2 linked regions of the Homo sapiens genome follow. The protein of the gene in region 1 purifies or fractionates together with the protein of each later gene. This does not show direct contact. Each region holds a gene or a part of one and is shown in the gene's direction. Other genes may lie near its edges.

What was found.
Region 2: the proteins of METAP1 (region 1) and PAGE1 purify together in Homo sapiens (co-immunoprecipitation; one large-scale study listed by IntAct). This does not show direct contact.

The regions. Positions count from the first base shown.
Region 1 is NC_000004.12:99,039,735-99,044,700, forward strand, and holds part of METAP1 (methionine aminopeptidase 1), read left to right. Parts: intron 1-1,308; coding exon 1,309-1,392; intron 1,393-3,514; coding exon 3,515-3,653; intron 3,654-4,966. UniProt on the Homo sapiens protein: Cotranslationally removes the N-terminal methionine from nascent proteins. The N-terminal methionine is often cleaved when the second residue in the primary sequence is small and uncharged (Met-Ala-, Cys, Gly, Pro, Ser, Thr, or Val).
Region 2 is NC_000023.11:49,686,024-49,690,508, reverse strand, and holds the end of PAGE1 (P antigen family member 1), read left to right. Parts: intron 1-965; coding exon 966-1,091; intron 1,092-2,945; coding exon 2,946-2,968; 3' UTR 2,969-3,062; downstream 3,063-4,485.

The DNA.
Region 1 (4,966 bases):
AGGTGCCCACCACCACACCTGGCTAATTTTTGTATTTTTAGTAGAGATGGGGTTTCACCATGTTGCCCAGGCTGGTCTCGAACTCCTGACCTCGTGATCTGCCCACCTTGGCCTCCCAAAATGCTGGGATTACAGGCGTGAGCCACCACACCTGGCCTTTTTTTGTATTTTTAGTAGATACAGGGTTTCACCATGTTGGCCAGGCTGGTCTCTAACTCCTGACGTAAGGTGATCTGCCCGCCTCGGCCTCCCACAGTGCTGGGATTACAGGCGTGAGCCATTGTGCCCGGTTTAGCCATGCTTTTCATTAAACTATTGTTAGTATATAATTTTAGTCAACAGTTTTCTTCTTAAAAGCCTATTTCAGAATTAATCTGGTGGATAGTCTATATTTAGATGACAATCCTTTTCATTTATTTAATGATATTTAAAAACATTTTGTCATTTTATTTTCACAAGTCATCATAACATAGGACAGAGTTTAAGGCTCAGAGGGTTATGCTGTAGGCCTTTTTGTGAAATACCTATGATGAGTGGTAGTAGTGGTTGGTACTCATTAGGTGAAATCACATATTTATTCTGAAGGAAAATATAATACATTGATATTATTCATTTAAGTAAGATTCTTAAGGTTTCTATTCAGTGCTTTAAAAGTGATTTGATTCTAATTTTGTTTGATATCCTGGAGAACTTTCTCTTCCTATGACTTGCTGTGATTCTTTGAGGAATTCATTCATCTATTTTTTTTTTTTTGAGACAGGGTCTTGCTATCACTCAGGCTAGAGTACAGTGGCACAATCATAGATCATATAGATCATAGCTCATAGCTTACTGTAACTCCAAACTCCTGGGCTCAAGCTATCCTTCCACCTCAGCCTCCTGAGTAGCTGGGATCACAGGCATGTGCCACTACACCTGACTACTTTTTTTTTTTTTTTTTTTAAGAGACAGGATCTCACTATGTTGCCCAGGCTCATCTGTTCTTTTTTCTTTTCCTCTACTTTTCCCCATTATAGAAATGAGAGAAGACTACCTCTATCAGTTGATGATAGTTTAGATTTCTTAGGATGTATATTTTCACATAGAAATCAGCCAACCTTACTGCTGCTTGCTTGTTAACCCAATTTTTATATAAAATTAATGTTTGTTTTTATGTATTTACATATAATATATTTATATATTTTCTATAAAATTATAATATTCAAGGGGAGATTCATTTTTACCAATCTTCCACAGTCAAACAGTAGAAAGGGTATAGATTTCTGTTTCTGTGTCTTTTTTAATGTATTGAGTGTTCCTTTTTTACAGCTTGCTAGAGAAGTTTTGGATGTTGCTGCCGGCATGATTAAACCAGGTGTAACTACTGAAGAAATAGATCACGCTGTACACTTAGTAAGAACTTCACTTTTTTACTTTGAGTAATTTTGTTACATTACTAGATGCTTTGAACTTAAACATTAAGTAGATTTAAGTTCTGAGTGTCTAAGGTAACTTGGGTAAACTCATTTGAAAGCAAATTTTTGCTTTGTTTCAAATATGGAAAACATTCAACAGTCATTATTCTCATCTTTAAGAATCTATAATATTAAGGTCTGAGGTAAGCTTGAAATATCTTGTTTCTGAAACAACATATTTGTAATAAGCATTTCAGTTGAGCTTTTATAAAATGATTGATTTTATCTGCTTTAAGTAAATCCTGCCACTACAGACATCAAATATTCTGAAATAAAAAAAAGAATATGACTTCTGATGGTAGATTAGTTAAATGTTTCCTCAAGGCAATGAACAGTCCACATAAATATTTGTAGTAAGTATAGGGATTAAAAATAAATAAATAAAGATTGTCTGCCCATCAAAGAGAGACCTTAAGACCTTATTAGATGAGTGTACACATTATATGAATTTTAAAAAAAAGAGTGATAAGTAGTTAATATAACATATGGAAAGCAGATCACACGTGTTCTAGTAAACAAATACAAATTATAAAGACCTAGTAAATTTGTATTTTAAAGATGTTTATATGCATTGCTTGTGTGGAAATGATGAAACTGGTCCTCTCTTCTGCTTGGTGATGGTATTGTAAATTGGAAGAACCCTTTTGGAAGGATTTGACAATCTATCTTGAGCTATGAAAATGTTTATAAATTTTTTATTCAGAATCTTATTAATCCTGACTTTTGGGTATTGTTTCATATGTTAGTATAAGACGTATCGTATGCAATAATAGCATTTTGAGTATGCTCTGTGGGCCAGGTACTCAAGTGCTTCTTTTACATTAACTCATTAATCTTACCAACAACCTCTTGAGGGTAGGTACTATTGTAATCTCCGTTTTATAGGTAAGGAAACTGAGGAAGAGAGAGGTTAATTAATTAAATTGGTAAAAGTTACACAACTTGTAAGTGATGGAATTGGCATTTTCAATCTAGAAAGTCTAATTCTGTATGCTCTGAACTATTATTTGTAATGCTATGAGAAGTAGAGAAGTATATTCCTAAATGAGGGAAAAGCCACAAATGTAGTTATTGGTTGTAAGATTTTTTTTTTTTTTGTAATTGAGGAAACTTCATATTAATTTAGATTTTCAGTAAGAATGGAATTGCTAGTAAAATCATGGTATATTCTGCATATTCTGCAAATGGTATATTGTGCAACCATTAAAAAATATTAGCCTGAAGACTAGAGCAGGTTGGAAACAGAAATTACGTATACTGTGATTACCACTGTGTAAAAGCATCCAGTAAAGTAAGACTTGTTATGGAGAGCAGACCATGTTTTTCTGTTAGGAGTTCTTTTGTTGTTCCACTGAATGTGGTTATTAAAATATCTGGAAGTACTTTACCGTTTCTTAATTATACTAGTAGTCATTTTTGGGGCATAGTGATATAGGCTTGTTTCAACATAAGAATTATAATTACATCAAAAATGCTTGTTAATATTTACTTCAAATATTTTATTTTTACTTTAACATTTTTCATAAGGACTAGTTAATTCTAAAGTAAAATCTTCATATGTGGTAATATTTATATATATATTTGTTATAGAGGTTGAGTATCCCTTATCTGAAATGCTTTGGACCAGAAGTGTTCTGAATTTTGAATTTTTTTGGATTTTGGAATATTTGTATTATACGTAACTGGTTAAGTGTCTGTAATTTCAAATTTGAAATTCTAAATGCTCCAATGGGCATTTCTTTGAGTGTCCTGTCGGTGTTCAGAAAGTTTCAGATTTTGGAGGATTTCAGATTTTTGGATTAGGAATACTTAACCTGTATGTCATTTTACTTTTCCTTTGTGCAGTTACCAGTAAACTGGTTTGTGTATGTGTACCTGACTGGCACAAACCCTGTTGTATATTGTTTAAGATAATATCCAGTACTGTTACTAAAATAAAATACTGAGTTCTTCATAGTAGCATGTGTCCAACTGTTTTCACATTTTTCAAATTTTAAAATCTGTAATTTCATACAGATTTTTTCTTTTATATATTCCAAATTATTTTTTCTGTATTATAGGCATGTATTGCAAGAAATTGCTACCCTTCTCCCCTGAATTATTATAATTTCCCAAAGTCTTGTTGTACCTCAGTGAATGAAGTCATTTGCCATGGAATACCAGACAGAAGGCCCTTACAAGAAGGTGACATTGTTAATGGTAAGAAAAATATGTTACTTTCATCACCATGGGCAAAGAAACAACAAAGCTTGGGGAATCTGACAGTGACTTGTGTTTTCTTGACTTGCTTCCTGTACTTAAACTTTTTCCTTTTTAAAATTCAGTATCACTAACTCTTAAATCTACAGGAAGCTCTCTTAACGGTTTTGTGCATGTTGCTTTTAAGATACTTCCGGTGTGATGTGTTTGGTGCAGTGTATTTCTTTAATGCTTATCTCATATGTGATTGGTAAATAGGTCAAAGATGTCAGTGAAATGTGGAGTCTAGTTTTTTTCCCCCAGAAGTTCACTAATGGTTTTGAAGAGACCAGGGCAGGCTTTGTTATAGATACAGGAAAACCCTTCATAATATATGAAGACCTAAAGGAAAGCTGAAAATCTTGCAGAAGTGCCTTACTTGAGTGGAAGTAGCTTTAAAGACCCCTATGTTAAGCTACCTTGGGAAGTTACAAGTATAGAGAGTAGAGGAAGTAGTTTAAAAGACATTAATGAAGGCTTTCCTAGATGGCATTTGTTTTTGTTTTGTGTATTATTTTATTTTTTGGAGACAGGGTCTCACTGTCACCCAGGCTCGAGTGCAGGGGCGCCACCATGGCTCACTGCAGTCTTGACTTCCCTGGCTCAGGTGATCCTCCCACCTCAGAAGTAGATGAGACTGCAGGCTCATTGCTACCATGCCCAGCTCAGTTTTTGTATTTTTTGTAGAGATGGGGTTTTGCCATGTTGCCCAGGCTGGTCTCAAACTCCTGGACTCAAGCATCTGCCCACCTTGGCCTCCCAAAGTCTTGGGATTACAGGCATGAGCCACCGTGCCTGGCTTAGATGGCATTTTAATATTGATGGAATTAGACTCTTTGTTAATAAGATATCTTAAAGGAACTACCTATCAAATGAGGAAGCATGAGCCCAAGTGTTAGAGGCTGCAGATAATTGACTGATTGTGATGCTAGCTGTGAATGATAGCCGAAATTTAACTATGACACTATTTTTATTAGAATTGCTACTGCTTTAGTTAGGGTATCTGTTCATAAAGTTCCATAGGTTTTGAGGCCAACCCTGTTTTTCAAATATAAAGCCTGTTATTTTTATTATATGTAGAATGTGTGAGGTTTTTCAGGAATGTATGTGTTGTGCTAGAACCAAAATATCTATATTGTGATGTTACAGGTTGATTGAAATATGTGGTTTAAAAATACTCAATGTGCTCTCTAGATACATTATAATGGTATAATAGTATATAATATATAGTATAATAGTAATCTATATTCTTAAACATGGGGACAAAGAGAAGA
Region 2 (4,485 bases), on another chromosome or scaffold:
TTATTGGTGGCTACTCATGCCATGTAGGAGTCTAAGTGCCAGGAGTGTAAGTGCTGTGAGAGACAGGGTTTCAGTCTTGAGTCATTTAATATGATAAGGACAATCAGAAGTAGAATAATAAAGAAGTGCAAAGGCAGCAACAAAGTTGTCTGAGGGCAGTCTTCGGAAAGGAAGAGGGTAATATTTGGAAAACCCTGTTTTCCTGTTTTCTGCCAACAGACTCCTGAAATCATGTTCTTGGGATTCTTATCAACACATTTATTATTACACTAGTGAAAGCTTTTATTTAATAACACTGAGAGCATGAATATTATTTTCTTGTTCATATTTCATGTTTTACTGCTTAAATTGATTATATATATACACATATATATGTGTATATATACACATATATATGTGTATATATACACATATATACACATATATACACATATATATGTGTGTATATACACATATATACACATATATACACATATATATGTGTGTATATACACACATATATATACACATATATATGTGTGTATATACACACATATATATACACATATATATGTGTGTATATACACACATATATATACACCCTATATATGTGTGTATATACACATATATATACACCTATATATGTGTGTATATACACATATATACACACCTATATATGTGTGTATATACACACATATATACACATATATGTGTGTATATACACATATATATACATATATATGTGTGTATATATACACACATATATATGTATATATACACATATACATATATGTGTGTATATATACATATATACATATATACACATATATATGTGTATATATATACACACATATATGTATATGTATATATATATATACACACACATATATATGTATATGTATATATATATGTATATGTATATATATATATATATATATATATATATATATATATTTTTTTTTTTTTTTTTTTTTTTTTTTTTTAAGGGCCAGAGCCTGAAGCGGATAGCCAGGAACAGGTTCACCCGAAGACTGGGTGTGAGCGCGGAGATGGTCCTGATGTCCAGGAGTTGGGCCTGCCAAATCCAGAGGAGGTGAAAACACCTGAGGAAGGTAGGCAATCCATTAGGCATGCAAATTGTAGGGTGTCTGTTTCCACAGTATCATATTATAATAATTATTATTTTTTTGAGACAGAGTCTCGCTCTGTCAACCAGGCTGGAGTGCAGTGGTGCCATCTCGGCTCACTGGAGCTTCTGCCTCCCAAGTTCAAGTGATTCTCCTCCCTCAGCCTCCCAAGTAGCTGGGATTACAGGCGTGCTCCACCACGCCCAGCTAATTTTTGTATTTTTAGTAGAGACGAGGTTTTGCCATTTTGCATAAGCTGGTCTCAAACTCCTGATCTCAGGTGATCCACCCACCTCAGCCTACTAAAGTGCCAGGATTACAGGCATGAGCCACTGCACCTGACCCAGTATTATGTTTTTAATAACACAGGGGTAACAATACTGCCTCCTTAATAATAGAATTCTTATATAAAGGTTATTTGAAATGTAGTTCAGGTCCCAGCAGCCAACTTATAGACTGTCAGATACAGAAACAAACTGAGACAAAGCCATATTGAATTATAACTTTTGAGTATAAATCCTTAAACCAATAGCTCATGATTTTCAGATGCTTTTGTAAAGGTCTGCTTTTAATAAATACATAACACATTTGTAACACCCATCAGTTGGTGTGAAATATGCTGAAGCACGGATGCAGGTTCTAATACCAGCTCTTACAGCATTGGTGAGATTCTGAGCAAATCCCTTACCTTCTAAACCTATCTTTGGTCTTATAAAAATAGTGAGTTTAAGTCAGATATTTTAAAATCCTTTTCCATTCTGGTTCTTTCATACTCTGATCCTGTTGCATAGAATGCATAGGATACAGAGATCATCTGTTTTACATGATTTATTTATCATAAATCATGAAACCCTGGCCTGAGTCATCTGAAAACCTCTGAATTGAGATTTCATTGCTACTAAGAAAGGGAGCGGGCACTCTGCTTCATGTTAGTTTTTCTGTGTGGAGACCTGAATGCCTATTCTTAGGTACTGTCAATTTTTGAATTGTCGCTCTGACAGAGTGACAAGTCTCACTCTGTCACCCAGACTGGGGTGCTGTGGTGCGATTTCAGCTCACTGCAACCTCAGCCTCCCAGGCTCAAGTGATCCTCCCAACTTAGCCTCCTGAGCAGCTGGAACTACAGGCACAAGCTGCCATGCCTGACTGATGTTGTTTTGTTAAAAAATTTTTTTTATACAGATGAGGTCTCACTGTGTTGCCCAGGCTGGGATTCTCTGGCCCTTAATGAATAAGTGCTTTTTAAATCTTTCTCCAAGGAAACCTTGAGTGAGTGAATAATCAAATGGTGAGAGACCATTTAGTTTCTATTTTCTGTGGGATGTAGGTCAGTGATGCTCAGCATGGGTGTGAGTAAGATGCCTGTGCTACGCACACTCCCTGCCCCACTGTCAGTCTTCATGAGCCACTATTTCTAATAAGACTGTAGACACATACATGATCTCTAACCATATCAAATGTTGCATGTAGGTTTCAGATTTTGAGGCATCAGTTGGTAAGATTTGAAGTTCAAAGACCATGACTCCAGTACTTTCTGAGTAATCCACCGAAGTATGTTTTACACATGTGTTTTCCAAGTTGCTGACTGTTAATTATAAGTGCTTCTGGATTTAAAGGAAGCACCTGATGTTTACGGAATTAATTACCTTTAAATTCTACAGGTCTACCCTCAAAATTTATACAGAGGTTTACTTGGCTATAAGACACAGGATCGCCCTTAGAGTTCTATTTTTAGTCCATTTTATAAAACCCAAATTGTAGTGTCCTTTGTGTGCCTTTTGGGTCATCTAAATAATCTGCTGCTAAATCATCTTCCTAACAGTTATGTTTCTGTTACAGATGAAGGGCAATCACAGCCTTAAAAGAAGACACGCTGAAATGGTTCAGGCTGCTCCTGTGTTGGAAATTTGACCATTAAAATTCTCCCAATAAAGCTTTACAGCCTTCTGCAAAGAAGTCTTGTGCATCTTTTGTTAATTTTACTTCCAGGTGTTTGATGCTCTGAAATGTGTATCATTCTTTGACATTTTATATGCTAGCTGTTTGAGCTGGTATGTAGAGGCATAATTCCTACATATTGAGTTTCTATCCAGCAACCTTGTTAAATATGCTTATTAATTCTAAAAGTTTACTTCTAGATCCTTTTCAGTTTTCAACATACAGAATCATATCGTCTTTGAATAAGAACAATTTTGTTTCTGCCACTTTTTTTTCTGTTTTCTTTTGTATTTTTTGTAGACACGTGGTTTTGCCATGTTGCCCAATTTGTTCTTGAACTCCTGAGCTCAAGTGATCCACCCACCTCGGCCTCCCAAAGTGCTGGGATTGCAGGCATGAGCCACTGCGCCCGGCCTGTTGCTGCCATTTTAAACACTTTTATTTCCTTTTCTGATTTTAGGGGCATTGGGCAGACCCACTGGTATAATGGCGATAGTGGACATCCCTGTCTTATCCCTGATCAGAAATGGAAAAATTTCAACATTTCAACATAATATTTACCGTACTTTTTTTGTAGATTGACTTCAACAGTCAGTCATTCCACTCTGCTCCAGTTTGCTGAGAGTATTCATTTTGGATATATGTTGAGTTTCATCAAACACTGCATCTATTGTGATTATCACCGCATTTTTTCATTAATCTGTTAAAGTAGTGAATTAGATTGATAAATTTGTACTTTTTTGTTTTATATTTTTAAAAATTGAGACAGAGTGTCACTCTGTCACCCAGGCTGGAGTGCTGTGGTGTTATCACAGCTCACTTCAGCCTTGACCTCCTGGGCACAAGGGATCCTCCCACCTCAGCCTCCTGAATAGGACTATAGGCACATGCCACCATGTCCAGCTAGTTTTTCTATTGTTTCGTACAGATAAGATTTTGTCATGTTGCCCAGGCTGCTCTGGAACTTCTGAGCTCAGGTGATCTGCTCACCTCAGCCTCCCAAAGTGCTAGGATTACAGGTGTGAGCCTTGGCCTGGCCACATTTTTCTTACATAGGGGTCTTGTCTGTGTAAAGACTCAACTTACCTGTACGTTTGTGTGGGTGGGCTAACAGCATGATGAAATTTATCGTTCTATTGATTTAAAGAAAACTATCCTTGACTTTCTAATGTGTAAGTACATCAAAGCATAACTATAATTATTTTGAACGCATATATTGTTATGGGTGTTGGGATCCCTGCACTTTCCGCTGCTGTGGGAGTATGTCCTTGTAGGTATCTTTATTCTGTTTTCTCAACTGCAAACATCCTAGGACCATGGGTTGTGACTGGCAAGGAATGTGCCTTGTTAATTTCAAGATGGAGTTGATTTTCAAGTGGTTTCACTCTGGCTGTCCTAGACTCCTGTTTCCCTAATATTTTCACTTCTTCTGTGATTCTGA